Linked DNA regions of Homo sapiens: regions 2 and 3 are each linked to region 1. Evidence: fine-mapped expression QTL. A gene starts in region 1. Each other region holds a variant in brackets. All regions are shown on one strand. Distances are between the middles of the regions.

What was found.
Region 2: its variant is fine-mapped to the expression of AKAP11 in whole blood (INTERVAL, PIP 0.96).
Region 3: its variant is fine-mapped to the expression of AKAP11 in T cells (TOPMed, PIP above 0.99).

The regions. Positions count from the first base shown.
Region 1 is chr13:42,271,011-42,273,777 of GRCh38, reverse strand. AKAP11 (A-kinase anchoring protein 11) reads right to left here and starts at 1,626. Exons shown (of 13, transcript NM_016248.4): 1 at 1,550-1,626. RefSeq lists a silencer at 1,367-1,716 and an enhancer at 2,257-2,436.
Region 2 is chr13:42,457,059-42,459,825 of GRCh38, reverse strand. The region is part of intron 3 of LINC02341 (long intergenic non-protein coding RNA 2341); the gene reads right to left. Among named protein-coding and RNA genes, the nearest start is that of LINC02341, 34 kb to the right of the region's middle. The variant C/T (reference allele first, on the strand shown) is at 1,149.
Region 3 is chr13:42,303,271-42,306,037 of GRCh38, reverse strand. AKAP11 (A-kinase anchoring protein 11) reads right to left here. Exons shown (of 13, transcript NM_016248.4): 8 at 2,175-2,767. Among named protein-coding and RNA genes, the nearest start is that of AKAP11, 33 kb to the right of the region's middle. The variant G/A (reference allele first, on the strand shown) is at 1,782.

The DNA.
Region 1 (2,767 bases):
TTTTCCAGCCTCTAAAGGCAAAAGAGGACTTCTTCAGCTTCTAGACTTATCCCTGGAGTTCAGGGGGCTAGAGAAGGCTAGAGAATTTCTCACTATGGTTCCATGTCTTAGGCAACTTCCCATATCCTCAACAACTGCAAAATATCACTGGCCTAGGAGTCCACTGCTAGGCCCTTATCAATATTGTCGATACTGCAGTTATGTGGGTACATACATTAGTCTCTAGCTCAGCTTGGGAACCCACTTCTTCCCTGATTTCCTTACATTCTTTGACCTTTCATAAATTACTGTTACAGCTACAATAGTGACATTCACTGTCCACCCCTGGGTCAGTTTTGTCAGGAGGAACAACGACAAGAAAAAATGAATAATCAGGGTACCGTTTGAAAAAGTAAATGTGTTTTTCAAAAAAAAAAAAAATCATTCAATTGCACTATTTTAACTGACACCAATCATGCCAGGCACTGGGCTGCCATCCTAAAATGATGACATTAAAAAAAATATATCTGTGCATTACTGATACCCCATTTTTTCTTAGTACTCCATATTTTGAGTATTTTCAGACATAACAAAATAACAATCGACATGACATTTCTAAAACAGTGGGAAGCAGCTAAGCAAAACGAGCATTTTGCAAGCGATTGAAAAGCTGAAAAGAGAACAGGAATTAACTCCAGTTTGTACTAAAGCTATTAGGTATGTATCTCAGCAGTCTTTCTCACCATGAAACTCCTTAACATCTAAAGCTAAACCACATCCAACTTTATATGGTTTTAGAAGACAGACAAAGCAGAGAAAAAAAATGAAAGCTGGTAATATGGGGAAGAGAAAAAATGTTAGCTTTTACTGTCATTGTCACTTTTTAATACTTCGGTTACATCTACATATTTTTTATAAAGCAGCTTAGATGCCTGGATTAACAGCAGTATACTCAATCCATTCGGGGTACTTTATGGCCAGCCTTAAGCCATTAACAGCCTAGGAGAGTATTTGACAGCAAATCCAAATATCAATACTCTGAGGAGCCCCTTGACGCCTTCCGTTTACAAGATCTGAGCAGCGCCTGCTTCCAAGGCTCCGGGGGTCTGACAGTGAAGGATGCTGTTCGGGAACAAAGTGCAACGTCCTCCCAACCGCTGCAAATGTTCCTGTGCGCACACCACGAACACACACTAAGCACGCGCACCACGCACCCGGGGGGCCGTCTCTGAAGACCACCCCGGGGATGGAAACAGCCTGTCATTAAAAGGGGCGGCAGCTCCACCGCCACACTTGGGACCCCAGGAAGACGCGTCTCGAGACCCAGCACCTCCCTCTACTCTGGGCCCGGTGCGGTGAGTTTCCTCCTTCGGCCGCGCTCCTCCCGCCCTCCTCCCTCCGCCATGCGAAGGCGCAGCTCTCGGGCGGCCCCGAAGCCAGAAGGGGGACCAGCGGCAGGCGGAGGGGCTGGAGCGCCGGAGCCGGGCCGCTCCATCCATGCCGGCCGCACACCCGCCGCCACCCCATCTAAACGCAGCCTCCGCGGCGAGCACGTCGGCGCCCGGCTCACCTGGGGGCCGCAGCCTCCGCAGCTCACAGACATGTCACCGGCCTCAACGACCCGTGAGCGAGCCGGGCAAGCAAGCTGGCCCCCTCCCGCGCTGACCCCCAGCCCTCCCCCTCCCAGCCCCGCGGCCCGCCCCCGCCCTGCCCACCCCTCGGCTTCCGCCGCCGCCGCCGCCGCCGCAGCTCCGGCCCGCAACACCGCCTACTCTCCACGCCTCCCACTCTCTCTCGCGAGAGGGCAGCGCGCCTCTCGCGAGAAAAATTCCGCGGCCGAGCCCGCGCAAAAGTGGGTGGGCGTTTAAAAAGGGAAAGAAGGAACAGGAAAAAAAGCCTTCCCACGTGCTCCAGTGCAGCCCGCGGAGCAGCCCGCGGGGCAGCCCCGCTGGTCACATGACTTAAAGGGGGCCTCTCCATTGGCCGGGACCCACTCAGCCTTGGGAGCTTTAAATTCGAGGGCGACCTACGAACCTGCGGCGGACGTCTTGCGCGCTTCCTGGTCCGTTGCCTTGGAAACGGCTTAACCCTTCCCTCTGGCAAGTCCCCAGGCCTTGGCTTGCTCCGCAGATTTGGTTTCAGGCTCTGCCTCTTTTCCCTCGACCCCTTAGTCTTAACAGCCTGGGGCCAGCTGGGCTCCTTCTTCGCCACAAGGCTAGTTTTGCTTTCTTCCGAAGCCCGGGGCCCTTCCCAAAGTGGCAGCCCCACCAGATCCGAAGGCCCAAGGAAGGCTCATCCTTTCTGATGGCTCCGCCCCTTCTCCCAGCATCTCCGGGGAGGACCACTCACAGCGCACCGGGCAACCAGCCCTATCCCAGCCAAGAAGTAGCTTCCAGGGTTCTCAGGGCCCTAGTGCTCACCCTGATGTCTTTACGTGGTATGGAAATCGGAAAGTAAAGCTTTGGTCACTGGGAAGCCTAGCCAGAGATGAAAAGCTGTTATGGTGATTATTTTCACCTAAAATCGGAAGGGCCAGTCCAGTCAAATTGCCCTGTCTCCTAAAGGGCATCTGTTCCTCAAGAGTGGAAACACCTGGCAATAAGAAAGACATTTTTGAGTGTATCCTCGTTATGAGTTAAGTTTTGCCCTGTTCAGAGGAGAGGGTCACGGAAGAAAGGGTGCATTCGTTTGTTCATTTCTTCATTCAACAAACACTACTCTAGGCTGTTGATTGAACAATGATGAAGACAAGTAGTGTAGATTCTAGGGAACTTATCTGAGGGTGAAA
Region 2 (2,767 bases), 190 kb before region 1:
TTATTCTTTAAAGGCTATATTGCACCAGCAATTCTCTGGACATTCACTTCTCTTCCCAATCTACTTCTCCTCTTCCTCCTCTGTCTCTGATTCACCTCAACTACTGCTGCTGCTTCTATTTCTCCTGCTCCACTTCCTTCTTCTTTTAAAAACCAACCTTTTAAAAATTATTTTATAAACATACATCATTAATGATAATGTGCCGGAAAAGGTATCTTAAAAAAGGACATCACATAAGTAATGCAAGCTCAGTGGAATCTTTTACTTTTATAGGAAAAGAATTCAGGTATTTATTATGTCCCTGCTGAAGAGTGAATAGTATCACTTCATCCAAACTGCTCATCCCACGCCCCAGCATTTCATGTTGTTCCAGAACTGCTAGTTTAACTTCCAGTATAAATTATTGGTTATAGGTAAACATGAACTCAGTTATCATCTGTAGCATCCCACCTTTGAGGATATTTAGGATTATAACCATTGAAGGATGAGGATCATTGGAAAAAATGAGCAAGGCATAGAAGGACCAAGTGCGGGGAAATGAAACTATGACTCCAAAAATTCACAGAGCATGACAATTGCAAAAAAGATGCCATCAGCAAATGTGGTGATTTTCCTACAGCACTTAAATTCCTGTCCTGCAGGTCAACTTAAAAGAATTTTGTCCGAAGGACATCACACAATAATCTACTCACACCCTGAGGTTTTCAAACTTTTAAAACAGCCACTGAAATAAATAAATAGGGTCATATATTCCAATTCATCTGGGATCCCTCTCGATATTTTCTGATGATTGGACTGGTGACCACTTTGCCACACTGTTTAACGTCCATATTATTTTTATACTTATTGTACATTATGTTGCTCAGGCTTAATTTATGAGCACTTAAACAAAGGTGTTTGCTTTTTAAAGTATCTTTCCAGGTGTGGAAATGTTACTGAGTGAAAGTATAGCAAAAGGAAAACACTGTTGAAAAATGTGTTTTAACAATTCTTTGAAGCTATGGACTTTATTGAAGACCCCCAAAAAAGCTATGGCTCCTCTCCTAAAGGGGAACAGTGCACCTACGCGTATGAACCACAGTTCTGAGCATAATTTCAGGATTTGGGTGGAAAAATGTTCCTAGAGTATTAATTATTTCCCATGCTCT[C/T]GTAGGAAGATTGCAGTTTTCTCTAACTCATGCTTGTAGTTTCTATTTTATGCTCCTTCAGGTAATAACAGCCTACTGGAAAGAATCATTAAATAAACAAACCAGGTGAAGTCTAATAGGAAATAATCACTCAACTTAAAAGAAAATGAGAGTGAGCAACCGCACCTTTCTGTATGTTTCTATTTGGCTTTTATGAAAATCTTTTGGGTGTGGGAACTCAGTGTTTATAACTGTTAGATTTTCCATTCTTTGAACTTTGTTATTTGTACAGCAGCTGTAAAAAGAGGTGAAGGCTGTAAATAGGAACTTAATCATCCATGCAAATTGTATTTCATGGCATACGTTACCATAGCATTTCAGAAGTTTTTGTAGGAAGTATCTATGTATTTGAATTGCCTGGTAAATACGAAGATGAACAAGGAAACTACATGGACCATGATTTCCACACGTTCTGCAAGACAGTTCGAAAATCCCTACTGCCATTAACATTCATCTCTTAGAAGTGGTCTGAAAAAGGTGTGGTCTGGAAGATGTTGTTTACTTTGGAAAAAAAATTTTTTTTTTTGTTCTGCTACTACTGAGAAACTCGAATCATTAGGTAAATGTCTCATCTAATTGTTCTAGTTAGGTGTTTCTCTGGAGAAACTGATCACCTATACCATAATGAACACAACACATTATCTCTATATTTTTTTCCATTTGTAAAGATTAAACCAACTAGCCCTATAACACTGCATTTAAACAAATCTATAAATAAGAGCAAGATTAGTCACATATCCATGATTTAGGCTTCAAGTTCTCCTTCTTTTTCCCTTTCTTGCCTATCCTTAGGGAAATGTACCTTAAAAAATGCCCTCATTAAAGGGTGAGATGGGAGCTGGGAAAAATAAATCTCAGTTAATCAGCTGTGGTGATTATGGGCATGGTGTCTCATGCCTGTAATCTCAGAACTTTGAGAGGCCAAAGCAGAAGCATCACTTGAGCCTAGGTGTTTGAGACCAACCTGGACAACAAAGCAAGACTCCATCTCTACCAAATTTTTTTAAAAAAATTATTAGCCAGGCATTGTGGCTGAGGCCTATAATACTAGCTGCCTGGGAGGCCTACGTGGGAGAATCGCTTGAGCCCAGGAGGTCGAGGCTGCAGTGAGCTTTGATTACTTCATTGTACTCGAGCCTGGGCAACAGTGCAAGACCTTGTCACTAAAAAACAAAATAAAACAAAAGAAATCAAAAACCATAATGGCAATAATTTAAGAAGGATATGTTCCTCTATCACAAAGTTGGTCACCACCACAATCATCGTTATTATTGTCATCATTGTAAACATTATCAACTATTACCATGTGCCAGGAACTATGTTCAGTGCTTTCTTTGCACTGCCTTAATAAACCTCACTTTCATATGAGGTGGGGGCCTTTGCACAGGCTAGTTCCTTTGTTTGGAATGCCCTTCTCTACCCCTTTCTGATGCACACTAGCCCATCCTTAACCCATCTGATTAATACTAATCCATCCTGCCACCCATCAGACATTACTTCCTCTGAGAAGACCGCACTGTCTCCATGTTTTTCTATGCCCCCTTATCTTTCTGGATTACTAAGCTGCCAGCCGTGGAAGA
Region 3 (2,767 bases), 32 kb before region 1:
AGGGACCTGGTGGGAGGTGATTGGATCATGAGGGCGGCTTCCTCCATGCTGTTCTCATGACAGTGAGGGAGTTCTCATGAGAGCTGATGGTTTTAAAAGTGTCTGGCAGCTCCCCCTTCTCTCTCTCTCCTGCTGCCTTGTGAAGAAAACACTTGCTTCCCCTTTGCCTTGTGCCATGACTGTAAGTCTCCTGAGGCTTTCCCAGCCATGCAGAACTGTGAGTCAATTAAACCTCCTTTGTTTATAAATTACTCAGTCTCAGGTGGTATCTTTATAGCAGTGTGAAAATGAACTAATACAGGCCAAACAGGAAGTACATAGGCACTGCTGGTCATACAGCCTCTGTCCCAACTACTCAACTCTGCCATTATAGCACAAAGGCAGCCACAGAAATGTGTAATTGAATGAGCATGGTGGTGTCCCAATAAAACTTTATTTATAAATACTGAAATTTGAATTTCATATAATTTCCACATCACAAAATATCATTTGATTTTTTTCAACCATTAAAAAAAAACATGAAATCTGTTCTTAGCTTGCAGTCCATACAAAAACAACCAGTAGGCCACATTGGCCCACAGACTGTAGTTTGCCAACCCCTGGTCTAGGAGAAAGAAGGCTGCCTGATTAGGGCAAATAGAGACCTCTCCTAGTTCACCAGAAACCTACATCATCTCTCATCTCAAGTAGACGCTATGGAGCAATTGGATTCAAGAATCCTGGCCAAGCTATATCTCCCTATTTTAAGATGGATAAGAAAAGAGGCAGACCATGTCATGGCTTTAACAGAAGCTACTCAAAAATCTGGAATATCATGTGACTCAATTAAATTCCACCTCAACTTAAAGCATTTTCTCTTTCAAGCAGGACTTACAAATATCATCCTATCAACTAATAACACAAGTTGGTCCTGATATCTTCTCAGGGACAAAGAAGGTTTAAACTGAAAAACTGTAACTAAGTTGTTATTAAAGAATCACTGAGCATGGCTGGTTGCGGTGGCTCACGCCTGTGATCCCAGCACTTTGGGAAGCTGAGGTGGGCAGATCACCTAAGGTCAGGAGTTCAAGACCAGCCTGGCCAACTTGGTGAAACCCTGTCTCTACTAAAAATACAAAAATTAGCTGGGCGTGGTGGTGGGTGCCTGTAATCCCAGCTACTAGGGAGGCTGAGGCACAGGAATCGCTTGAACCCGGGAGGCAAAGGTTGCAGTGAGCTGAGATTGTGCCACTGCACTCCAGCCTGGGCAACAGTGCGAGACTCCATCTCAAAAAAAAAAAAAGAATCACTGAGCACAAGAGATAGCTACTGAAAAACAGGACACTGTAGGACTACCAGAAAGAACTGTCCTCTTAGATTGTGAACCAATCAAGAGAAATGGTGTAAGTATGTAAAGAATTTTCACTTTCTTCTTCAGAGTAGTTTAACCATGGTCTTTATAAGAAAACTTACCCTTGTGAATGAAGAAAGGTGTACAAAAATTTAATCTCAGAATAGTAAATTAATATAGTAATATTCTACATTTACTATAGAATAGTCCCCCCTTATCCATGGGGGATATGATCTAAGACACCCAGTGGATGTCTGAAACTGCAGATAGCATCAAGCCCTGTACATACCAGGTTTGTGGACCTGATAACTGAGATACCTTCTAAGTGACTAACAGGTGAACAGCACATGTAGTATGGATAAACTGGATAAAGGGGTAATTCACATCCTGAGTGAGATGGTGTGAGACTTCATCATGCTACTCAGAACATGCAACTTAAAACTTACGAATC[G/A]CTTATTTCTGGAATTTTCCATTTAACATTTTCAGATTGAGGAAAGCAAAATTGAGAATAAGGGGGGACTACTATATAAAATTCTCTAGCTATTTATTTAATTCAACTTTACCTATTTCATAGCTCTATGAACTTGGATAAGGTGATTATTTTCTCCAACCCTCATTTTCCAGCTCTGTAAATGGATAACACCTTCCCTCAAAAGGGATCAGGAGACCAAAATATATTAAAGTCATGTGTAGGATATGAAACAATACATAAATGCAACAGGGAAAACTTTTGTTTATGTAGGGTTAAAAATAATCATTCCTTTATGAACAGGACCTAAGACATATAGGATCACATTTATCTTTTTAATTTATCATTAACAACCAAAAGAAACGTGAAACTTACCTGCTAACAGCATGCCCAACATTTGTGACAGCTGCTGTCATGGTTTCTGTGGCAAGGCTTTCAGCAAAGCTGGCACCCTCCTGTCCGATCCCACTGTCGGCTGCCAGGCTGGTACTGCTCAGCTCTCGCTCAGCTTTTTCAATGGCTTCAGCAACTATCTTCTCAGCAAGCACTGCCTTCTTATCAAGATTAACATGAATCTGAGGGACACTGAGATGAAAAATCCTAGATTTCTGATAGCGGCTGCTAAATTTTGGATTAGAAGCTGGCTTACTACTGGCGAGAGAACCCTGTCTGAAAAAGTGCTGAGATGAATTTCCAGTGCAATTGTGGAGTTCTTTAAGGTCACAGTATCTGCAAGCTTGACCTGTAAGAGGTGACAACTTTTCTGCATAAGTGACCCTGTCTGCTGATTTTGTGGTCTCAGACACTCGGAACACTGTAGATCCTAGAGTTAGCTCTAGAGTGTCATCCACTACTTTTTTGGCATACTGTTCTACAGCTTGAACAACATTGTCTCCACAACCATATCCATTTAAACTGCCAGTGCTGTGGTAAAACCTGTGATTTTGTGAGGAAGGCTGAAGAGACTT